Linked DNA regions of Homo sapiens: region 2 is linked to region 1. The links come from fine-mapping of genetic effects on gene expression. A gene starts in region 1. The other region holds a variant in brackets. All regions are shown on one strand. Distances are from middle to middle.

What was found. PIP is the estimated chance that this variant, and not a neighbour inherited with it, causes the effect. A credible set is the group of variants that fine-mapping cannot tell apart.
Region 2: its variant is the best candidate, but not a certain one, in a credible set for the expression of PXN-AS1 in whole blood (TOPMed, PIP 0.59).

The regions. Positions count from the first base shown.
Region 1 is chr12:120,198,657-120,203,882 of GRCh38, reverse strand. PXN-AS1 (PXN antisense RNA 1) reads right to left here and starts at 2,592. Exons shown (of 4, transcript NR_038924.1): 1 at 2,457-2,592. It overlaps RPLP0 (ribosomal protein lateral stalk subunit P0), which reads left to right and starts at 2,772. Exons shown (of 8, transcript NM_001002.4): 1 at 2,772-2,800; 2 at 3,052-3,153; 3 at 4,398-4,573; 4 at 4,678-4,765; 5 at 4,883-5,029; 6 at 5,144-5,226. The coding sequence starts at 3,100. RefSeq lists enhancers at 2,257-2,616, 3,017-3,086, 4,127-5,068, 5,188-5,226.
Region 2 is chr12:120,241,220-120,246,445 of GRCh38, reverse strand. The region is part of intron 1 of PXN (paxillin); the gene reads left to right. Among named protein-coding and RNA genes, the nearest start is that of PXN, 22 kb to the left of the region's middle. RefSeq lists an enhancer at 774-1,600. The variant G/A (reference allele first, on the strand shown) is at 2,059.

The sequences.
Region 1 (5,226 bases):
ACCCCATTCTCCTGCCTCAGCCTCCCAAGTAGCTGGGATTACAGGCACATGCCACCACGCCCGGCTAGTTTTTTATATTTTTAGTAGAGATGGGGTTTCACTGTGTTAGACAGGATGGTTTCGATCTCCTGACCTCGTGATCCGCCCACCTCAGCCTCCCAAAGTGCTGGGATTACAGGCGTGAGCCACCGCACCTGGAGTGATTGGAATCTTAATAACCTGTCAAAACAGCATTTAAATCTCATTCATGTTATTTTCCATCCTTCCCATGGAACACAGATAGCCAAGAAGACAAATAAAAGAGACCCCAGGCCAGGCACAGTGGCTCACGCCTGTAATCCCAGCACTTTGGGAGGCTGAGCTGGGTGGATCACCTGAGGTCAGGAGTTCGAGACCAGCATGACCAAAATGGAAAAACCCCGTATCTACTAAAAATACAAAATTAGCCGGGCATGGTGGCACATGCCTATAATCCCAGCTACTCAGGAGGCTGTGGCAGGAGAATCACTTGAACCCGGGAGGTGGAGGTTGTGGTGAGCCGAGATTACGCCATTGCACTCTACCCTGGGCAACAAGAGTGAAATTCTGTCTCAAAAAAAAAAAAAAAAAAAGAAAAGAAAAGAAAAAAGAAAAGAAAAAGAAATACAGTAACGTGAAATCGAGCTACTTCTAACTTTTTTTTTTTTTTTTGAGACGGAATCTTGCTCTGTCACCTAGGCTGGAGTACAGTGGCGCAATCTCAGCTCACTGCAACCTCTGCCTCCTGGGCTCAAGCAATTCTCCTGCCTCAGCCTCCCAAGTAGCTGGAATTACAGGAGCCCGCCACCACTCCTGGCTAACTTTTGGTATTTTTTAGTAGAGACGGGGTTTCACTGTGTTAGCCAGGATGGTCTGGATCTCCTGACCTCGTGATCTGCCCACCTCAGCCTCCCAAAGTGCTGGGATTACAGGCATGAGCCCCCGCACCCGGCCTACTTCTGACAGTTTTATGGTGTGTGATATAGGATATAACATGATGTATGAAGCTCTTTGTAATAATTTTTAATTTTGAAATAGCTGATTCTTTGGGGATCATTTAATACATAATTCCATAGGTTTCAGTGAAAAAAAAAAAAAAAAAGAGATCTCAGGGTTGGGCAAGGTGTCTCATTCTTGTAATCCCAGCAATTTAGGAGGCCAGGGTGGGAGGATTGCTTGAGCCCAGAAGTTTGACATCAGCCTAGGCAACATGGCAAGACCCCATCTATACAAAAAGTACAAAAAATTAGCTTGGCGTGGTGGTGTGTGCCTGTAGTCCTAGCTACTTGGGAGGCTGAGGTGGGAGGATCACTTCAGCCTGGGAGGTCAAGTCTGCAATGAACTGAGATTGCTCCACTACACTCTAGCCTGGGCAACGGAGTGAGACTGCTTCTCAAAAAAAAAAAAAAAAAAAAAAAAAAAAAAAAAAGATTTGATGGAGGTGAATTATTCTATGGATGTTTGTTGGCTAGTTTTCTAGGAAGAGGGAATGGCTAATGCAAAAGCCCCCAAGTAAAGCCTGCTCTGGAAAAGCAGCAGAGCATCATCTGGGTAGAAAGCAAGTAAGTGAGGAGGAAAACATCTGAGATGATCAGAGTGGGCGTGAGGGACAGATAGGTAAGGGCCTTGTAGGTACTTTAGGTTTTAGATTTTTACTCTGTAGGAAACGGAAAGTTTTAAGCAGATAAGGAGATGAGCTGACTTAGGTTTTTTTTTTTTTTTTTTTTTTTTTGAGATGGAGTCCCTCTCTGTCACCCAGGCTAGAGTGCAATGGTGTGATCTTAGCTCACTGCAGAGCTCACAGCTCCCGGGTTCAAGCGATTCTTCTGCCTCGGCCTCCTGAGTAGCTGGGATTACGGGCATGCGCCACCCCACCTGGCTAATTTTTGTATTTTTAGTAGAGACGGGGTTTTGCCATGTTGGCCAGGCTAGTCTCGAACTCCTGACCTCAGGTGATCCACCCGCCTCGTCCTCCCGAAGTGCTGGGAGTATAGGCGTGAGCCACCGCGCCCGGCCAGGTTTTAAAGGATCCCTCTGTTTTGGTAGGCGGAAAAACTAGAGAAGACGAGAGACCATTCTGAGGCCGGGCGCGGCGGGTCACGCCTGTAATCCCAGCACTTTGGGAGGCCGAGGCGGGCAGATCACGAGGTCAGGAGATCGAGACCATCCTGGAGAACATGATGAAACCCCGTCTCTACTAAAAATACAAAAAAAAAATTAGCCGAGCACGGTGGCGGGCGCCTGTAGTCCCAGCTACTCCGGAGGCTGAGGCAGGAGAATGGCGTGAACCCGGGAGGCGGAGCTTGCAGTCAGCCGAGATGGCGCCACTGCGCTCCAGCCTGGGCGACAGAGCGACACTCCGTCTCAAAAAAAAAAAAAAAAAGAGAAACCATTCTGTTTCTAAGCATGTGCAATTATGTCTCAGCTCCACGTCATACCTTTTAGTTTGCTGAGCTCGCCAGGTGGCACAGGGAACCGGGACTCCGAATTCGCAGCTCCAGCTCCAGCTCCAGCCCAGCAGGTGGCAGCAGCTCAGAGCAAGCTCCTCCAACGCGAGGCAGCGCCTTCCTTCGCGACCCTACTTAAAGGCGGCTTTCCGTTGGCTGGAGTGGCAGCGATATTATCCAATGGTTGCCTGTATTCGTTCAGCTTTGTCTGACGGGCGATGGCGCAGCCAATAGACAGGAGCGCTATCCGCGGTTTCTGATTGGCTACTTTGTTCGCATTATAAAAGGCACGCGCGGGCGCGAGGCCCTTCTCTCGCCAGGCGTCCTCGTGGAAGGTTCGTGTGCTAGTTAGATGGGCGCCAGGGGTCGCCGGCGGGAAGCATGGAGGGGTCTTTGGGGGCCTTTGGGAACATGGAGTCCTATTCTGTTCCGCCTGGGGCCTCGGTGGCGGCTTGCACGCCCCGAGATGACGGCCGCTGCCCTAGGCAGGGCCGGCGGGCGATTGCGCGTGTCCTGCTCCTCTTAGGCCCGGGACCGCGGGATGGGTGTCGGCGTGACCAGGCCTGAGCTCCCTGTCTCTCCTCAGTGACATCGTCTTTAAACCCTGCGTGGCAATCCCTGACGCACCGCCGTGATGCCCAGGGAAGACAGGGCGACCTGGAAGTCCAACTACTTCCTTAAGATCATCGTAAGTGCAGGGTGGGTCGCCTCTGCTCTTCATGTTGCCCCAGCGCAAATAGGGACAGTCAGCTGCTATGTGCTGAGGGTCTACTCACACCGGCTACTGAATTAGGCCATTTTTGGGAAAATACTGTTTAGTTAACAATTTCCTGAGATAGGTCCCTTCTGTTGCAGATAAACGGGCTCAGGCAAGTTAAGTGGGTCCTAAGATGACAGCATTCGTATCCAGGTCTGTCTGGCTTCTAAAAGAGCGCGCTTTATACTTTTTTTTTTTTAAACGGAGTCTCGCTCTGTTGTCCAGGCTGGAGTGCAGTGGCTTGATCTTGGCTTACTGCAACCTCCGCTTCCCAGGTTCAAGCGATTCTCCTGCTTCAGCCTCCCGAGTAGCTGGGATTACAGGGGCGCGACACCACACCCAGCTAATTTTTGTATTTTCAATAGAGACAGGGATTCACCATGTTGGCCAGGATGGTCTCGATCTCTTGACTTCATGATCCACCTTCCTCGGCCTCCCTAAGTGCTAGGATTACAGGTGTGAGCCACCGCGCCCGGCCGCACATTACAGTTTTACTCCATTTTTGAGAAGGTCTGAGGTCAGGAATGACTCATTGTAAGGAAGCAAGCTGTTGCATATTTAGGACCTGTCAGCCAAGAAACTTAAGTGTCCAATGACTTTTGGATGGCCTTTGAGGTGGGTCTCCCTTGCCCAGAAATGCTGACTGTACTGCGCTTAAGCAATTAGGCAGCATTGTAGAGCATAGCTTGTATTACATTTTCCCACACTTAGAAGGTTTTCAGACACAAAACCCAAAGGAATTGTGTAACAATCCGGATAAACACGCCTAGATTGTTTTTACAAATAATAATGTTGCTATATTTGCTTAACGTGGTGCTTTTAATGCTGTGAATCTAGCCCTCCTCTTGACCAACTTACTTGGAACATTCCTTTTTTATCCTGTTAACCATTTTAGTGAATCAGAAGCATGCCTGGTAATTGGGAAAAATTAAAAACTAAGTAAAAAAAGAAAAAACTCCTTGATTGAATGTAGAAACCTAATTTTCAGCGTTCATACCCAGCTAGCCAATCATCCAGTTTGGCAGTGTTACAACGTAGCTCCCAATCTCCCTCTGACTTCAAAAGCTTAGAAGAAAGGGAGTGGGATGGAAACAAATTGTGGGGTTCAGTTTCTTCTGGCATTTTTTCCCTCTCTCTTCCTGTTAAACTTGGCTCCTCTGGCTTGTTTTTTGTAGCAACTATTGGATGATTATCCGAAATGTTTCATTGTGGGAGCAGACAATGTGGGCTCCAAGCAGATGCAGCAGATCCGCATGTCCCTTCGCGGGAAGGCTGTGGTGCTGATGGGCAAGAACACCATGATGCGCAAGGCCATCCGAGGGCACCTGGAAAACAACCCAGCTCTGGAGAAGTCAGTTCCCCTGGCAGTTTTGTCCTTTCTCCCCAGTGCCCGTCTCCCTCTTCCTGGAGAATGGTGCTGAAAGGTGATTGTCTCCCATAAACTTCTCTTTGCAGACTGCTGCCTCATATCCGGGGGAATGTGGGCTTTGTGTTCACCAAGGAGGACCTCACTGAGATCAGGGACATGTTGCTGGCCAATAAGGTAAGGGGACAATTGGGTTGGCTAAAGAGACTTTGTTGTTGCTCCTTAAAGCAAAATGGACCATTCTCAGGTTGTGTGAGTGGAGAGGCTTTTCTCACTGTTTGTTGTCTTTGTCAGGTGCCAGCTGCTGCCCGTGCTGGTGCCATTGCCCCATGTGAAGTCACTGTGCCAGCCCAGAACACTGGTCTCGGGCCCGAGAAGACCTCCTTTTTCCAGGCTTTAGGTATCACCACTAAAATCTCCAGGGGCACCATTGAAATCCTGGTGAGTGGACCTGGTTTGCCTGTGCTAACCAGGCAAATGGGGAGCTGCTTTTAGTGGCCATGGATCTGCTGGTTGTCCAACAGGTGTTTACTGCCCCACTATTATCTGGTTCAGAGTGATGTGCAGCTGATCAAGACTGGAGACAAAGTGGGAGCCAGCGAAGCCACGCTGCTGAACATGCTCAACATCTCCCCCTT
Region 2 (5,226 bases), 43 kb before region 1:
AAGTGATTCTCATGCCTCAGCCTCTGGAGGAACTGGGATAACAGGCATGCGCTACCATGCCCAGCTAATTTTTGTATTTTTAGTAGAGATGGGGTTTCACCATGTTGGCCAGGCTGGACTCGAACTCCTGACCTCAAGTGATCTGCCCACCTCAGCCTCCCAAAGTGCTGGGATTAAAGGCATGAGCCACTGTGCCCAGCCTAATTTTTTATTTTTATTTTTGTAGAGACGGAATCTCACTGTGTTGCCCAGGCTGGTCTCTAACTCCTGGCCTCAAGCAATCCTCCTGCTTTGGCCTCCCAATGCGCTGGGATTATAGGTGTGAGCCATTGTGTCTGGCCTCTTGCCTTGTTTTAGATTCATTGAGTATTTTTTAGGGTTCTGTTTTATTTCCACTCTTTGCTTATTTAGCTATACTTCATTGGTTTGATTTTAGTGGTCACTCTGTGGTTTGCAGGTTTAAATTAATCACAATCTGCCTTCAAATCATACCATACCATTTCACGTATAATGTAAGAACAGTATATTTCCATTTCCCCCTCCTGTTTTTTGTTATTTCTACATATATTATGAAACCCGTACTATGTAGTCCACCTTTTATGTTTGTCCACAAATTTACTATAATATTTCTAGCATTCTTTTTTTTTTTTTTTTTTTTGAGATGGAGTCTCGCTCTGTCGCCCAGGCTGGAGTGCAGTCGTGCGATCTCGGCTCACTGAAAGCTCCGCCTCCTGGGTTCACGCCATTCTCCTGCCTCAGCCTCCCAAGTAGCTGGGACTACAGGTGCCCGCCACAACACCCGGCTAATTTTTTGTATTTTTTAGTAGAGACGGGGTTTCACCGTGTTAGCCAGGATGGTCTTGATCTCCTGACCTTGTGATCCACCCACCTCGGCCTCCCAAAGTGCTGGGATTACAGGCGTGAGCCACTGTGCCCGGCCGCATTCTTTTTTTTTGAAGACTAAAGAAGTTAACAAAAATGTCAGGAAAACATTGTTTTGTTTTTTTTTTTCTTCCCCTCCTTTTCCCATTCTCGTCTGAGAACGTGTTGTCTTCTTCCTCCCTGGCTAGTTTCCCTGCCTGTGAACTCCCTCAGCCTCACTAATCTGTACGTGCTTTGTGGCTCATCCCATCTGTGCTTCAGTCATGATAATCGATGCTGTCAGTCTCTCTGGGCTACACAGCCCCACACTTGGTGTTGCTGACACATTCCGGTGGTGCACGTTTGAGAAAATCGCACATTCCAGCTCATGTCCCCTGCCTCCTCTGCTCCATGGGGAGAGGTGTGACCAGATCTGCAGGGCCTGGGGCTGCCACACTCCTGTTCCTTCTTGCTCTGTTGCTACGTGATGCCCCTCCTCCTCCTTCCCCAGCACCAAGCCAGAGAGTCACCCAGTCCCAGGCCCCAACTCCCTCCCAGCTGCCTCATTCCTATGCCCTGAGCCCACCTCTTGGAGCTCCCCTTCCCCACCCACAAAGGAAGCCAGATAGGCCACCCAGTGAGTTTAAACCTTAAGTACCCACAAGGGGCTATGCTCCAGCCACAAAGTCTTGTGGACTATTCCTTTGATTTTTTTTTATTATTTATTATTTATTTTATTTTATTTTATTTATTTATTTGTTTTGAGACAGAGTCTCGCTCTGTCACCCAGGCTGGAGTGCAGTGGCGTGATCTTGGCTTACTGCAACCTTTGCCTCCCAGGTTCAAACACTTCCCTGCCTCAGCCTCCTAAGTAGCTGGGATTACAAGCGTCTGCCACTGCGCCCAGCTAAGTTTTGTATTTTTTTTTTTTTTTTCCGAGACGGAGTCTCACTCTGTCATCCAGGCTGGAGTGCAGTGGTGCGATCTCTGCTCACTGCAAGCTCCGCCTCCCGGGTTCACGCCATTCTCCTGCCTCAGCCTCCCGAGTAGCTGGGACTACAGGCGCCCGCCACCACGCCTGGCTAATTTTTTTTGTATTTTTAGTAGAGACGGGGTTTCACCGTGTTAGCCAGGATGGTCTCGATCTCCTGACCTCGTGATCCGCCCGCCTCGGCCTCCCAAAGTGCTGGGATTACA[G/A]GCGTGAGCCACCGCGCCCGACCAAGTTTTGTATTTTTAGTAGAGATGGGGTTTCACCATCTTGGCCAGGCTGGTCTTGAACTCCTGACCTTGTGATCCACCCACCTCAGCCTCCCAAAGTGCTGGGATTACAGATGTGGCCACCATGCCCAGCTATTTTTTTGTTTGTTTATTTTAGGGTAGGAGTTTTGCTGGTTGGGGAGGGGTGGTGGCAACTAGATCACAGTAGATGGGACATTCTGGGATAGAAGAGTAGGAACAACTTGGGCCCTGTGCTCCTGTGTTGCTCTCCCTCACCGGGCTTTGCATACAGTGAGCTCTTAGGGAGGACCAGGAGGTGGCATGAGCTGAAGTGGCAAGGCTGATCTCAGCAGCAGACTGACTTGGCGCAGGTCATTTGTTGATTTGTTTGGTATCATCCATGGAGCCCCTATTATATGCTAGGCTCTGCCCAATGCTCAGATGAAGATGAATATAGGCGTACTCCCTACCCACAATGTGCTATTCCTAGGCTGTGAGACATGGCCCCTTAGGCAGACAGTTCCTACCAGCTTGAGGTGTTCTCATAGGAGAAGTGCACAGTGCTTTGGGAACTCAAAGGAATGGAGCCTCAAACCCTTTGTAGGAGAGTAAGGTCAGGGAGGGCTTCCTGGAGGAAATGGGATCCTAAACTGACTCTGTTTTGTGTGTGTTTTAAGAGATAGGATTTCTCTGTTGCCCAGGCTGGAGTGCAGTGATGCCATCATAGCTCACTTGCAGCTTCAAACACCTGGGTTCAATCCATCTTCCAGCCTCAGCTTCCTAAGTAACTGGGATTACAGGCATGTGCTATAGCACCTGGCGAATTTTTAAAAATTTTTTGTAGAGACAGGGTCTTGCTGTGTTGCCCAGTCTGGTCTCAAATTTCTGCCCTCAAGCAATCGTCCCGCCTTGGCCTCCCAAAATGCTTGGATTACAGGCATGAGCCACCATGCCCGGCCTTTTGTTGTGTGTTTAAATAGAACCTCAACATTTAGAAAAGGCCCCAACCTTTGTCCTTTACTTAAATGGTCATTCTGTAATAAGATTTTGGAAAGAGACCTTCCCAGCAGAAAAGCAACACGTTGCTTTTTCTCTAGGTAGGCAGGATGGATCCTTTTTATCCTCTCGTTGAAGAAGATAAACTAAGCTATTATGAGTCTCAAGGGATTAGAAAGGATTTAGCCTGGTAAAGAAGACAGGAGAGAGGTCTAGGGAGAGGGAATAGCTCATGCAGAGGCCTGGAGGGCGGACGTGTGTGCAAGCATGTGTGTTTAGTTCATTGGTAGTGATTTGGTGCCCTGTGTCCAGTTGGATCTTTCAAGCTAATCAAACTTATCCTGAGCCACAAGGCCAAGGACAGTCATTAGGCTTTGCATCTTCATTGGAATGACCTTTTGGGGATGACCTTGCTACGATAGCTGAGATGGGGCTGGCCTTTGGGGCATCTGTTATCCTACAGTGAGATGAGCTTTTTTTTTTTTTTTTAAAGCCCGAGTCTCGCTCTGTCGCTCAGGCTGGAGTGCAGTGGCATAATCTTGGCTCACTGCAACCTCTGCCTCCCAGGTTCAAGCAATTCTCCTGCCTCAGCCTCCTGAATAGCTGGGATTACAGGCGTGTACCACCACACCAATTTTTGTATTTTTAGTAGAGACAGGGTTTCTCCATGTTGGCCAGGCTGGACTCGGACTCCTGACCTCAAGTGATCTGCCCGCCTCTGCCTCGCAAAGTGCTGGGATTACAGGCATGAGCCACCACACTTGGCCATGAGATGAGCTTTATCTGTGCAAAGTCTCTCTGTGGTCAGCTGGGGCTGGGGCCGTGGGTCAGTTCTGAAGGGCATTTCCATGAGGGTTTGAGGCCTGAGATTGTGTCCTGGGCCCTCTGGCCCCAGTGGTGAGCCGCATGCTCATGTGGCAGGAAGGATCTGGTTCCTCTGATAACCTGCTTAGGCTGACCCCTCTTTTTCCTGGAGGACGGCTGTCAGAGATGGGGCTGGCTTTCTATTTGAATTTCAGAGGCAGACTCGTGCAGATGGGTGCGGGCAGAGGAAGGGAGCCCATGGTCTTCCTGAACACTCTGAGAATTCCCAGAGCAGGCTGCATGCAACTTCCTGAGGTTCTCCCAAAGCCAGACAGGGAGAACAACTTGTGTTCAGGAGAAGGGTACCATATAATTTAACAAACTGTTACTTAGATAGGTGCCTTGGCCAGAGAAAAACGTCCTTGGGCCCTGGCTCAGGGAACACTGTGGCTCTGCCTGTTCTTGGTGTAACTCCTGATCCTTGTTACCGTCATTACCTGACCCCTGCCGCAGACCTTCTTCCCTGTCTCATCTGTTCCATCCCTCCTGCAGGAAACAAACATGGGAGGCATCCTGCACTCCTCACTCCTTCTCCATATCCACTCAGTTTCCAGGTAACATTGATTTTACCTGATTTCATGTAGAGTATTGCAACTCTTGCTCTTCCTCCAATTGAGCCCTGCCTCCCTCTGATCTCCCCTGCCTGAGTGATGTAAAGTGCAAGCCTGGTCCTGCTGTTCCGCTGCTGACCGCCTTCCTTCTGTGGCTTGCCCTTGTAAGTCCAGACTCCCCAGTGGGCCCTCGGCCCTTGACTCCTCTTCCATCAAGCTGGGACTTGCACTCTGAGCTCCCATCCCCTCTGTCTGGGCACTTTCCCAGGCTGTTTTCCACCTCTGCCTGGAAAGCCCCTCCCCTTTCCTCCTGGCCCACTGCCGCTTTCAGGGCCTTCTGCCCCTCGTTTATGACAGTCTCCCACTAGTCAGTGCTCCCCGGAGACAGGCATTGTATATTTGCCCCTCCCATGCCCAGCATAGTGCCCGTGCACACTATGTGTTTGTGAACGCGATTGGAGCCATCACTAGTAAAGGTGAGGCTGTCCCAGTGAGAGCATCGGAGGGAGGGTCTTGGAGGAGGCACGTGAGACAGGTGCAGGTGGCTCTGCCTTGGATACCCAAGCGAGGCCACATCTGTTTTGTGCCTCCTGAACTGGGGTGGCTTCACTGGAGTTTGCTGCCTGGGTCAGTGTCCAGGCAGGTCCCATTCCAGAAATTCTGATCACCTGGGATTGAGGTGAAGATGAGGCAGCTTCAGCTTCAGCCCCTAGTGATCAGACTTGTCTTCAAAGGA